2 linked regions of the Homo sapiens genome follow. The protein of the gene in region 2 interacts with the protein of the main gene of each other region in a biochemical or structural test. Each region holds a gene or a part of one and is shown on either strand. Other genes may lie near its edges.

The links.
Region 1: the proteins of COL4A5 (region 2) and ANTXR2 form a complex in vitro, tested with the Homo sapiens proteins (one study listed by BioGRID).

What each region holds. Positions count from the first base shown.
Region 1 is NC_000004.12:80,071,780-80,075,698, forward strand, and holds the start of ANTXR2 (anthrax toxin receptor 2 isoform 1 precursor), read right to left. Parts: upstream 1,451-3,919; 5' UTR 782-1,450; coding exon 630-781; intron 1-629.
Region 2 is NC_000023.11:108,596,838-108,600,756, reverse strand, and holds part of COL4A5 (collagen alpha-5(IV) chain isoform 2 precursor), read right to left. Parts: intron 3,760-3,919; coding exon 3,689-3,759; intron 3,381-3,688; coding exon 3,189-3,380; intron 2,056-3,188; coding exon 1,887-2,055; intron 1-1,886. UniProt on the Homo sapiens protein: Type IV collagen is the major structural component of glomerular basement membranes (GBM), forming a 'chicken-wire' meshwork together with laminins, proteoglycans and entactin/nidogen.

The sequences.
Region 1 (3,919 bases), on a different chromosome or scaffold from region 2:
GGGTATCTGTAGCTGAAACTTTGGTGGTACCCAGAGTTAAAGAAGTCAGTCCCAGAGCAAGACTCCGTCAAAAAAAAAAAGAAGAAGAAGAAGTCAGCCCGTTTTCTGGGGTGGGTAAATACCTGCCTAATTGTTTAGAGTGGAACCCAGCTCTTCAGAGTAAACACAAAAGCCTTTCTTCGCAGGAAATGCAAACCACATTGGGCATGTTAACCCTAGGCTTTTCCTGGCTCCAATGAAAGCGCTATGATTAGGATAAAACCAGGCAAACTTTAGCCTGCGTACGAGCAGGGTCGAGGAGGTGGGTAAGGACTCTGTGGCCGATGGAGCGTGGCCCGCAAGAGGCCACACTCCCATTTCCCAAGAGGCCAAAAGACTGGCAAACAGTGAATACCCCAACTCCCCAAAGAGCCAAGTAGCCCGGGGCTCCAATCACTACCCCCGACCCGGCTGATCTCCGCCCACACAGATCCGAACGCGCTTGCCCTTTGAAAGAAGACAGCAACAGGGCACCCCTCCGCGGGTTTCCAACACCACTCCCCGGGGTGCGCACACGCATCTCAGCCTCAGCCCCAGCTGATCCAGTGCCGCCCTCACCAGGAGACCCTGGACCTCCCTCGCACACTCACTTGTCCAGGACGAAGTAGAGATCAAAGGCTCTTCTGCAGGAGGGCTGCTCCTGGGCGCGCAGCAGCCCCCCGGGACCGCTGAGCACCAACAGCCACAGCCCGGGGAACAGCCAGCTCCCGGGGCTGCGGGCCGGGGACCGCTCCGCCACCATCCTGCGGCCGGGGGCCTGAGACTCCCTCCCGCTCGCAGTCCCCTAAGCTCAGGAGGGTCGCAAAGGTGGCGGGAGTCACCCGGCACGCACTCTGGGGTGGGGGGCGGCGAGCAGCTGAGACGCCGGCGCCTGCGGCAGCGGGACCCACCAGCTGACAGGGAGGGAGAGAGGGAGGTCCTGAGAGGACAAAGGGAGTCTCCGCCACCGCCGCAGCTGCCGCCGGAACTCTTGACGAATCCCAGTGGAAGCGCGATCCAGTCCTCCCCCTCCCGATTCCGGAGAGTTCCTGCAGACAATGCGGGCCCACGGCGACAGCTCGCGAAAGGAGTTCCTCTCCGGCCTGGGGCCGAGCCTCCAGCGCCCGCCTCGGACCCGGACCTGGAACCCACCCCGCCTGGAGGGCTGAAGTCCCCCCCGCTGCCGTGCGCTTCGGGACAAGGGGTCCCTGGGACGCGGCGACGGCAGAACAAACTAGGAGTGGAGACTCTTCTCCTCCGGCGGCCCCAACTCCCTCCGCACTCCGAAACTTTCCTCCCGGTGCTGGACTCTGGCACTGCGCTGACAGGCCGTCCCCTTTAGGGGAGGAGGCTAGCTGGCCCTGGGACTCCCGGCTGGAGAGAAGCCACGCCGAGGGCAGGAGCCCGCTCGGGCCGGGTCTGGGCTGCGTGTGTCAGTGTGCGCCTGGGGACGAGGGCGGGGCCCCAGCTGAAGCCTCCGAGCCACACATGCACACTTGTGGGTTCCTGCCGAGTTGAAGATGACTAACGCTTGCCAGATTTGGGAAAGGGAAGAAGGAGTTTAGAAAAACAAAAGTTATCTAGAAACTAAACATACCCGTATGTCCTGCAGGCCTGGCCTATTTTAGCAGCTGTGCTAAAACAGCCCCCATGCGTGGTTCACAAACCCAAGACTAAGGATTCCATGGGAGGTGACGGCCTCCTCACTCCTCACTCCACCCCACCCCTACTACCACAAACACTCTTTATGAACTTCCTCTTTTTCTTCTAAAGAAACCTGCTTAGTTTTTTTTTTTTTTTTCTTTAAAAAAAGCCAAGCCAAGGAAAGGCCGGAGTGGGGAGTGGGAGGGGATAGCAGGCCTCTTTGGGAGTGGAAAGTTGTACCTCAAAATATTTCAGCCCACTGTCATTTCCCTGCAAGCTCCAGTTTTGGAGAATTTCAGCTTTGGGCAAGCTAGGTCTCCTTTGCAAAACTTGTGCAAGCACTCAAGTTTGTGCACAAATCCTCTGTCTACTAGTTCTGCTCTCCCTCCTCTCTCTTCCCCCCACCTCCGTGACTTCCGCCCTCCCTTAGTCAAAACTGGCTTTTAGAACCTAAATACCTTTTCATTTTTAACAAAATCAATGCTTTATGTAGTACTTACATATACATCTCTTCTGTTTGTTGCCATATGTATTTAACTTTTCATTTATTATATTTGATATACAACCAGATATGTCAGCTCTTTGAAGATAAAAATTAGTTACTTTAACAAAGATTCATTGAGTGCCTATTATTTGCTAGGCACTGTTCCAGAAGTGGAGGTTAGTGCACAGAACAAGATAACAAGCCCTTGCTTTCATGAAGCTGACAGTCTGGCTGAAGAGTGAAAACAGACAATAAGAAATAAATACATAAGCAAGGAAAAAAAATGTCCATATTGGAAAGGTGGCCTGTAGAAATTTAAAATATTGTGATGATAAAGAATGACAGACTCAGTGACTAACAAAAAAGACCCAGTCATTCCAAGAGCTCTAAGGGGAAACATTTGGAGTTACTGCAAAGGTCCATAGACATTAGCTTAGCATATTCAAAAAAGAAAAAAAAAAAACTGTGTAGCTGGAGCTTTGCAGGTAAGATGATGTAAGACAAATAGGCAAGGGCCAGATTATGTGATGCTTTGTTTACTGAGATAAGGAATTCAGATATTTAATATTGAGTGTGACAGGAGGTTATTAGAGGGGTTTAAGCCCAGGAGTGGAGTGGCAGATGAATTGATATGATCTGTGTTTTTCAAAGATCATTCTGGCTGCAATGAGACAATGAATTTGGAGTTAGCAACAGTGACAACAGGGAGAGCAGTTAGGAGACTATTGCAGTAGCAACATGTTGACAAACAATCCTGAGGTTCATAAATTTGGAAAGGAGAACTTCATTTCTTATAAAGGGTTACAGCTGCAGGCTGGACATCTTGACAGGCTGGGAAGTGTAGCCTCTGGCAGAGACAAAAAGCAGGCACTTTGAGGGAGGAAAGGGTGGAACAGGAATTTATGCTAAATGAGTTGGCCAAGTATACATATTCAACAGGTTATAGGAGGAACTATGAATATTTCTGAAGCAAGGGGTACATGAACTATGCATATTTCTGAAGCAGGTGGGTTAAGTTTCCACATCAAAGTGAACATGGGACATATGCAACATGCATGTTTAGTAAGCAAACATGAATAGTAAGCAAACATGCAAGTTGCATATGTCTCATGTTCACTTTGAGGTGGAGACTTAACAATTAAATGTATTATAATTAGGCCCTATATGTCAAAAGGTGAAACAGAAGACATGAAGGCACTCAGTGCCACAGCCTCTGTAAACCAGCCAGAACCAGTCTATGGTCAGTGGTCTCTTATCAGGAGAGTTATTAAAATCAGTCTCTTGTCCAGTCAGAGCTGTAGTTATGGCTTGTGGAACAGGGGTAGGGGTGGAGGATTAATTAGTTAGTGTCTTGCAGTCAGTAAGATGCAATTGTTTCAATATTGCTTATCTGGAGGCCAGTGTTTGTTTAGATGCTAGAGAAAAAGAAAACCCTTTTGGCAGTTAGAATATAGTTTATTTTTTAAGTGTAGGAGTGTGTGACTTGACCTTTGCCTGGCATGGTCTTAGGTCTTGTTTATAATTTGGTGTCTTATGAACACAGAGTACATTCTGTCAGTCTTATCATCTCTATTTTAACAAAGGCAAAATAAAATGGTACCTTGGACCATCATCACTATAGCAACTAACCTGAGAATTATGAATGGATGAAAACTTCAATATATACCGGCAGACCTCCATTTTGAAAATATGCTCATTACAAATGTCAAACATTGAATGGAGGGTGGCTAACATCCCTTCTCACTCTTTGCCAACTGGTCACTTGGGGATGGA
Region 2 (3,919 bases):
GCCTACTGTGGGATTTCTCAGCCTCCATAATCATGTAAGTCAATTCCCATAATAAATCACCTCTCATCTATCTATCTATCTATCTATCTATCTATCTATCTATCTATCTATCTAATCTACCCATCTGTCCATCCTTTTTATTGGTTCTGTTTCTCTGGAAACCCCTAAAACAGGGTGTTACCTATATAAGTATTTTTAAAATGTAGGCCAAAAGAGCATTAAAAATCAAACTGTAGTAAACAAGGAAAATATTTTTTTGGCTAATAGGTACATTTAGGTTTTACATGTGCAAAGTTCAAGTATATCTACTTCTTATTAATGGAAACATGAACTTGAAATTGGCTCAAGAAAAAAAAGATTTCCTAAACATGACACAAAAAGCACTAACCATGAGAGAAAAGATTGATAATTTTGATGATGTGAAAGTTGTTTTCTGCTCATTGAAGACACCAAACAAAGAGTAAAAATGGCAAGCCACAGTAGGTAAAGATTTCTTTTCGCAAAATACATAGGTAACTAAGAACTAATGCACAGAATATATAAAGAACTCCTCTAAATCAATAAAAAAAGAAATAATCCAATATAAAATTGGTCAAAGTACTTGATTAGGCATTTCACAAAAGCAAATTCAAATGACCAATAAACACATGAAAAGGTGCTAAACTTTAATCAGAGAAATGCAAAATATCACACTCAACAGATTGGCAAAAGTGTAAAAGTCCGACAATACAAATTGTTTCCAAGGATGTAAATCAACATAAAATATTCAACACTGCTTGTGGTAGTAAAAATTGGTACAATTGGTCTGGATAGAGTTTGTAATTATCCAGTCAAGTGGAAGATGCACTTATCCTATGCTTTGAAAATGCTAATCTTAAATACATACCCTAGCCCAGGTATTGGTAAGCCTTTTGTGTAAAGGACCAGAGTAAATACTTTAGGCTTTGTGGACCATCCAGTCTCTGTAGCAACTACTCAACTCTTCAGTTGTAGTGCAAAAACAACCACAGACAAAAGTGAATGGTTGTGGAAGTGTTCACATAAAACTTTTATTTATAACAGGTGGTAGGCTGGATGTGGTCCATGGACTGTAGTTCTGTAGTGTGCCAACTCTTGCCCTAGAGAAGTGTGAGCACATGAACACAAGGAGATATAGGGATCTATCTATCTACCTAGCTATCTATCTATATGACTGTAAACAGAAGCATTATTCATAATAGACCTGAACTGTAAATAACCCAATTAACCATTAACCATAGAATGGATCAATCAACTGTAACACACACACACACACACACATAAACATACATACAATGAAATACTATATAGCAATAAAAATGAATACACTATAGCCACACGAAAAGTTAATATAAAAAACACTTACCCTATGATTCCTTTAACATGAAGTTCAAAAAGAAACAAAATTAAAATACTCTGTTTAAAAATGCATACAGAGGTCATAAAACAGAGGGGTAATGGAAGAAAACTATGTAAAAGTCAAGACAGCAGACAGGAGGAAGGGGATTGTGATTAGGAAATGACAGGGAGAAAAGGTTAGGGGTTTCTAGGATGCTGGTAACATTCTATTTTTTGATGTGTGTGGTAGCTACCTGTGTGCTTCTGTTATAACTATTTATTAAACTTTGCATTATGTATCATGTACTTAAAAAGAGCAAAATTAACAGTAACAATGAAACAGTTAGAAAAGATTTAAAAAGAAACCCCCTTATAAAAACCATTGTGATCCCTTGCTAAGATGCTCTGAAGAGTTCAAATATAAACGGCCAGGGAAACACACCTCTCGGGAAAGGAAGCCATGAGTAGCCAAAACATAATAAATTTCTGTTTTTAAGCACCAAGTTTAAAACAAAACACAGTAAACTTACCTGGTATTCCTGGCTGGCCTGGATTTCCTGCCACACCTTGTATGCCTTTTTCACCTACTGGGCCTGGAGGGCCGAAACCAGGGGGACCCATAGGCCCTATATTCCCTGGGAGGCCTGGTAAACCTGGGTTCCCAGGGGGACCTCTTTCACCCTTAAAAGTAATTCCACCCTAAAAAGGGAAAAGTTTAATACAGAAACATATAGATACAACAACTATCTGTAGGTTGGTACTGAATACAACTGGGGAAAGGATATAGCCATAAATAGTTCTTCTTAAAAGCTATATAAGTGAGTGGTATTATGAGATGGTATGTGTGATCATTCCACTTACTCATTCCTCCAACAAATATTTTTGGGCTCCTACTATGTGTCAAGTGCTGGTGATACAACAGAAAACAAAAATACACAAAAATCTCTGACTTTATGCAGCTTACATTTTAGTGTAAGTCAGAAAGGTTATAGTCTAGATAACATTATAAAATATCACTTCCTACCTAAATATCCTGGGCTGTGTGTTATGTACAAAATAAGATTGTTCATTTATGTTAAATCTTTCAGTTCTGTGGCACATTGAACATGGCTATCTACTTGTACTATTCTCTAAGCTTACTATATATATAGAAACAAGTTAAACTGCTGGTTATGAGGTTTATTTATTTATTTATTTATTTAATTTATTGTGATGGAGTTTTGCTCTTGTTGCCCAGGGTGGAGTGCAGTGGTGCAATCTCGGCTCACTGCAACCTCCGCCTCCCGGGTTCAAGTGATTCTCCTGCCTCAGCCTCCCGAGTAGCTGGGATTACAGGCGCCCACCACCATGCCCGGCTAATTTTTGTGTTTTTAGTAGAGACAGGGTTTCACCATGTTGGCCAGGCTGGTCTCGAACTCCTGACCTCAGGTGATCCGCCCACCTCAGCCTCGCAAAGTGCTGGGATTACAGGTGTGAGCCACCATGCCCAGTCATGAGGTTTAAGTAAACCCAAGGAAAGATATGTGGGGGTTAAGAGATGGGGAACCTTATACTGTCTCATAAACATCTTAACCTCCTGCCCACCTATTCATAGAAAATAGTATTCAATATTAATGGGTTAAGAAAAATAAGTTTACAAAACAAGTGAAAGAAAAGAGTAGTGCAGAAACCCTACGTAGTCAGTAACAATGTGCCATTACTGTATGGTCACATTGTTTTAAGCATTGATTGGGTGTTTATCTCAGCATCAGTCCCATCCTTTGAATTAACTTAGAAAACATTTCTAAGTGAAAATTTAACATCACAAAACCAAAAATATCAAACCAACTCACAGGCTCTCCTTTCGGGCCAGGAAGCCCTGGCAATCCATCCTGTCCAGGAGTGCCAGGTAAACCAGGAAGCCCTGGAGCTCCAGGGGAACCCAACTCTCCTTTGTCACCCTTCATTCCTGGAAAAGTGAGGATATCACCAGGTTCACCTTTAGATCCAGGAAAGCCTGGAGCACCTGGAGCTCCTGGAATGCCCTGAAATGAGTAAGGAAAAAAAGAAAAAAGAGTGGAAAAAGAAGAAAGAGAAAAAGAAAATCAGTTTCTTTTTTTCTAACATTTTCTTCTCTCCAGTTTACCCCTTCAACCCATCCAATAACATTTAATGTACAAAGGGCTGAATCAAGTGAGGCATGTGAGTCAGGAAGAGTCAAGGAATCAAACAAAGTACAACTTAATGGAAAAATTAAATTGTATATGTGTGTATATATATGAATAATTGAAAATCAATGTGTAAAATGCCTTCCTTCTACTTCTTTTTGTTTTATAATATACTCAAAACTTACTGGTAATCCTTTGGGACCAGTTGCACCAGCTTGTCCTTTTTCCCCTTTCTGTCCAGGGAAACCAAGAGATCCTAACACACACACACACAAACAAACACACACACACACAATAACGTAAGCTTTGAGCTTGAACTCCTGACAAAGCTCATACAGAAATCATCAAGTCAGAAAGTCAAGTTTTTAAAATAAGAACCCCATTCAATCCCATTTAAGTCACATTTGTATTTTCCT